Linked DNA regions of Homo sapiens: region 2 is linked to region 1. Evidence: fine-mapped expression QTL. Tissue or cell type: stomach. Region 1 holds a variant in brackets; the other region holds the start of a gene. All regions are shown on one strand. Distances are between the middles of the regions.

The links.
Region 2: it holds the start of OAF, and the variant in region 1 is fine-mapped to the expression of OAF in stomach (GTEx, PIP above 0.99). The same link has a PIP of 0.9 or more in atrial appendage, esophagus muscle, gastroesophageal junction, left ventricle, lung and pancreas.

What each region holds. Positions count from the first base shown.
Region 1 is chr11:120,184,351-120,187,246 of GRCh38, reverse strand. It overlaps LOC124902773 (a long non-coding RNA gene), which reads left to right and starts at 1,649. Exons shown (of 2, transcript XR_007062923.1): 1 at 1,649-1,997. It overlaps LOC105369530 (a long non-coding RNA gene), which reads right to left and starts at 1,054. Exons shown (of 3, transcript XR_948101.2): 1 at 1-1,054. The variant T/A (reference allele first, on the strand shown) is at 1,539.
Region 2 is chr11:120,209,833-120,212,728 of GRCh38, reverse strand. It overlaps OAF (out at first homolog), which reads right to left and starts at 1,697. Exons shown (of 4, transcript NM_178507.4): 1 at 1,219-1,697. The coding sequence starts at 1,449. RefSeq lists silencers at 1,380-1,489, 1,580-1,629, 1,810-2,069 and an enhancer at 2,403-2,896.

The sequences.
Region 1 (2,896 bases):
CAGAGACAGAGAAAGGGACACGTGGCACACAGATATGCCAGCACATTCTGAGAACAAACTCAAGCATGGTTCCTCAGGTCTAGAGGCCCACAGACACACACAGGCACCCTCCCGCTTCACCAGGGCACACCCTTGACCTGTCACCCACCAGTAACACCTACATACACCAGCAGACACGCAGGACAACGCATGCTGACTCGGCACACCCACATATAAACATGCAACCCACACAGAAGGTGTGATTCACCTCCAGCCACGTACAGAAACCCACTCCCAGCCAGTCGGGGCCCGCCACCTAACCTCAGGCGAGGACTACCCTCCCCTGGGAGACCTGGGGACTCCTGAGCCTGGGAATGTCCCTGTTCTTTCCCATTGCCTGCCCTGTCCCTGACCCTGGCTCCCCTCTCAACTCTACCATGTGCTGTCTCTGTCAGGCAGGCCAGGGAACCTGAGTTCCCCCAGTCCTGACCTGCCTCTTCCTTCCCTTCTGTTCCTGTACCCCACATCTTTCCAGAGGCCTAGAAAGCTCTAGGGCTAATTATCTCATGGCCCTCCCTGCTGCCAGGAACTCCTCTGCCCAGTGGCTGACACCCCTTCTGCCTCCCTCAATCCTTCAGGGCTGCTCTTGGATCTGAAGTCTCTTCTTCCTCAGCCCCAGGCCCCCCAGATTCCCACAAGGCTCCCTGATGGGGAAAGAAATGTACTCTTCAGGACAGATTGGGGAGGAGCAGGCAGATGAAGGGAGACAGGAAGAAGGGGAGAGAGAAAGTGGAAAGAAACAAAATGAACAGATATTTCCTAAGGCCTAGGAAGGAAGGAGGGGCAGATTGAGTGCAGCTGTAGGATGCCCAGGGTAGCAGGTGTCTGTGGGGAGCAGGGACAGAGCTGGGCCACCTCAGACCCCCTTGCTTTGCTGGGCACCCATTTTAAGGGCTTACTTGGCCCACATGAGGACAAGGCCTCTCTAGCAATTTATCCCAAACTCCTGATCTTCTCAGGCCAGACCGGGATTCTCCAGGGCTCTTGGAGTGGGGAGTTCTAGGCCTCCTCTTTAGCCCCCTCCATCCATAATTTCCAACCTCACAAGCCTTCCCAATCCCCCTTGGGGCTCTTCCTCTGGATAGGAGCCCAGTCTGCATGCAGCCCCTGCCTCCTCTCAGCCCTTCCCACCCCCCACTTCTTTCCAAGCTGGAACATCACAGCTATTCTCAGCTTTCTGTCCATATTCTGTGGACAATCATGGAATTTTTTAACCCAATCTTGGGTTAGGAACACCCTCCAAACTCTACTGGAAGCCTCAAAGCACTTTCCTTCATATTTATGAGATCTGAGGCAGGTTTCTTTAAGTCTTTGCAACTTGGTTTCCTCAATGTAACATGGAAACACCCAGCTACTAGCACGGCTGTGAGCTTGGTCTCTGCAGAGCACCCAGCCCAGGGCGTGATGTTTAGCAGGGGGCCCTTGATAAATTTAAATTCCCTTCTCCTTCCCCCACTTTTCCCTTTTACTTTGCTACACACTATTTAAGCCAGGAGAGA[T/A]CAAACTGACCCCATTGCCCTGGGACAAAGGAATGATGGCCTCAATTCAAGAGCAAAGTACAGGAGTTTTTGATTAACTCATAAACACTCCCGACTTCCAGCAGCCCAGCTGCTGTGGTGTGGGGTGGGGAAGGGAGGGGAGGGGAGGTTGTTGAGGGGACATGCAGGAAAGAGATTAGGAAATTCAGAACAGGAGGACACAAGGGCAGGGGAATGCTGAGGCCAAGGCCTTCTCCCACCACCTGCCTCCTGCGGGAGTGATTCCACAGTGCAGAGGGAGAGCCATTTGGAGGTCCGGCACCCGCTCTGCCCATGCCTATGCTTCAGGCTCTGTGAGAAGGCTGGACTCCTTCTGGAACTTCAGGACCTTGGATGCTCCCCTCCTCTGCTCCTGCCTCCCTTCCCCCAGCCCTGGGGTGTGTCAGATGTGTGTTTTCTCCTGGACTCAGCTGAAGCAAGGTCAGCCCAGCTTTCAAGGGGAGGAGCTTCCACACTCTAGGTCAGTGCTCCCGCGGACCAGGGACTTGACCAGAGAGCAGAGAGCATAGGGTGGGGTGTGGGGTGGGAGGACAGAGCACAGGGAGCCCTGGGCTCCCTCCAGAATCTCAGAGGTGCTCACATCCAGAGGGTCTCCCAGGAATCACGGAGCCCCCCCTCTGCCTCCATGCCAAAGGGATCCCAACTCATCCCAGGAAGAAGCCCAAATCTTTGTGCCATGGGGACCAAACATTCCACATGGTGGCTGTCCTCATGGTTTGCATGGTCATTCTGATTTCTAACCCGAATCTTTCCCGCATCGCTAATGGATCCTGTAGGTTCCAAGGAGTTAGTCATGATATCAAGTAAGCAGTTTGTTTCCCCTGAGGATGAGCCAAATTTTGGGAAGATTCTCAGCTGCCTGTCTCCACCCTCCTTCATCCAACTTACCACCCCGACCCTGTCCTCCTCCCCACCCGGACACGTGGGAAAATGCCCTGTTAGCCCTTCCAGTCATGTGAATGAGGCCACGATTCAAAGGCAGTGGGCAAGAAGGAGGCCACAGGGAGCAGCCAGAAAGAACCAGCCCTTTGTGCTAGACAGGGGTCCTTGGGGGATGAGTGCATTTTTGGCGTATTTAGAAATATTTATTTTTTATAATGAGCAGCAGAGGAGGAAAGGGGAGGGAGGGAGAGGCAGAGAGGCCAAGGCAGGACTTGGGAAAAGAGGCTGGAGCAGTGGTGAGGGCTGGGAAGGGAGGTTACAAGAGCGAAAGGAGAAACAGACAGGAGCCAAAGGGTAAGAAGTGGGGACAGAGAGGGAGAAGCAGGACGGTTCTGAAGACAGATGGAGATAGTGACGACACAGGTGCCTGCCACCAT
Region 2 (2,896 bases), 25 kb before region 1:
GCCTAACCCCTCACCCCTGCTAACTATGGCAATCTGGCTGGGTCCCTAACTGACTTCCCAAACTCCGCCACCTCTCCTCTAAAGCGCCCTGTCTCTACGAGGGAGGAAAGACAGGCAGCTTCAGCAAGGGTCCCCGGGGCCCCGGGCTCCCCCAGCTATCTAATCGGCTTCACCCCTGCACTCCCCCAGGGACAGAGCCTCACAGGGCCTCTCTTTAGCTGGGGGAAGGAGACAGAACGCTCCTTTTGAATACCTAAGACTTACCCACCCTCTTTTCCTCCAGCTTTCCTGCTGCTGGGTCACTGTTAGTCACTCACCATCCAGGCCCATTTCCTGATAATCCCCCAGCCCCCTGGGTGCAAGGCCCTTCTTATTCCCTCCAACACAGACACACACACACCAAGAGCGGGCTGGTCTCTAACTCCCAAACCGTAATCTGGGACACACACCCACACACCCACACCCACCCACCCACCCACCCACCGGGCTGGTCTCTAACTCCCTAACCCTAATCTGGGCCAAAATAGGGGGGTTGGCTCGCTTCTCTGCCAGGCAGAGTGAAGGGCAGCACTTCTCCCAGAGGGAGGGGGCCTCAGCTGGGGTCTCTCTCCAGGATCCTCCTGCTGCAAGCGCCCCAGCCTTCCAGACCAAAGAGGAGACAGGGCTTCTCCCGGCTTGAGAGGGACCAGGGGCAACCAGCTCTCCCCAGAAAAGTGAAACAGAGGGAGAGGTGACAGAGGGACTCCAAAATGTCAGGGCTGGGAGGCCTCGCAGACCCCTCAGTGCCCTGTACAGGGGTGAGAAGCCAGGCCCATAGGAGGAAAGAGGCTTGCTTGCTCTAGATCACACAGGGAGAACCCACAGTGAGAGCCCACAGCGAGAACACTTCGCCTAGGACTTTCCCACTAGAGCACAGGGGAATGACTCCAAGAAGGGAGTCCAGTCGTTAGTAGGAGTTCTGGAGGAGGGTTAGCACCTGGGGGGCTCTGGGAGCGCTGGAGGAGGGAGTGAGAAAGGGAAGCAGAGGGGTTCTTTGGAGAGAATGAAGGGGTGGGCCCTGGGGAGTGGGCAAAGAGGTGTAGAGAAGAGCCCGGCGTGACCTTGGGCCAGCTGCGTCTCCCTCCTGGGCCCGTCTTTCCGTCTGCAGGCAAGAGAGCGCCTGGGATCCCGGGGGGCTCAGGCTTGAAGGTGCCACCCCGGCGAGTGAGGGCGCCTCACCTTCTTGAAGTCGGCGGTGAAGGAGACGAGGGTGCCGTCGGGCTTGCGCAGCTCGAGGCTGATGCTGTCCGCGTCGCTGTCCGCCTGCAGGCTCTCCTCGGTCACCTGGCCGTCCGGCAGCCGCACGCGGACCCGCAGCTCGGCCGGCGCACCCGTTCCCAGCAGCGGCGCGAGCAGCGGCAGCAGCAGCAGCAGCGCAGGGCGCGCCAGGGGTACCCCGGGAAGGCGCATCCCCGGGGGCCGCTGCCGTCCGCGGCCCCGGCGCGCCGCGTGGGGGCGGGGAGAGGCGCAGGCAAACTTCGCCCAAAGTTGGGGGCTAGTTCGGGGCGCCCGGGAGCCGCTCCGCCGGGGGCCTTGGCCGCGGGGTCGCCCGCGAGGTGGCGCGGACGCACGTGGGTAGCGCTCAGCAGGGCGCCCCCGGCGGCCCCGAGGCGGAGACGGCGCTGCCCCGGCCCGGCTCCGCGGCCCCGGGCTCCAGCGCTGCGAGCCTGTGTTTTGCACTTTTCATTCAATCCCACCCCCCGTCACTTCCTTCAGAAAACAGAAACCACCAGGACCCGCCTTAAAGAGACCGCGCACCTCGCGGCCCTTAAAGGGCCCGCGGCTGCTCTCCGCACTTCGGCGTTGGCCGGGCAGGGGGCGGGGAGAGGGGGCAGCGGCTCCGCGGCTTTGTGCGAGCGGCCTCCTCGACCTCCCTCCCGCCCGGCCGCGCGGAGTCAGCGACCCAGGCGGAGTCAGAAGTTTGCTCTCCCGGGGCAAATCCCTTCCTTCCAGCAGGGGCAGGACGGGTGACTCTTCCCCCGCCCTGCACCGCCACCCCCCCCCCCCGCTTTTTTTTTTTTGGCTTGCTTTTGTGCCACGTGGATGAAATAATCGGGCTTGGATTTTTAGGGGTTTTGTTTGGTCTTTCAGTTTCTCTGACAGCGAATTTCTAAAAAGCTTCTGCAAAATCAGACCTCGCTTTGCACTCTGCCTTTTCCCTGCCCCACACTGGGAGGGTGGATCGGGGGTTCTCGCCCAGCTTTGCCACGGCCAGGTGTTAGACCTTGATGGGTCAGGTCACCCACTGGGACGCGGCCCTCAGGTTTTGTGAGCCCCTGTGCCTCTTTCCTTTTCAGTCCTGCCTCCCGTGCTTCCCGCATTCACGGCCTTTCCTCAGTCCTGCCCACCACCGCAGACCCGGTTCTTTCTCTCTATTATAGACTATGAAAATCCAGGGAAATGTTGGATTCCAGGTCACTTGGGAGAATTTCCAGGGACTCGGGACGCTGGCGCTCCACGACAGTGGCTTTCCCACAAGCCACAAGGAAACATGCGTGCCCTGCGGTGCACCCCAACAATAAGAAGGGTGAAGACCAGGAGATCTGGATTGCTGCCTCCTCTGATTAGTTGTGGAATTTAGGCACGTTTTAAAAATTCTTTGGGCTTAAGTGTCCCCGTGTGTATCGTGGAAGCTGCTCAGACCTACACTGTCCTGCCAGTCCCAGGCAAGGGAAAAAGCCCCACGAAGATGCTCAAAACCAATTGTTCCCTGACTTCCATTTTCACTTCTGTTGGGACCTTGATTACTGATGGGTGAAAACTCCCTTCTCTGCAGCCTCCTTCCCTTCTAGGGCTTCCCCAGCACAGGGCCATGTGAACTGCAGGGTCCGGCTAGAATCGGCCTCTTGCTATCATC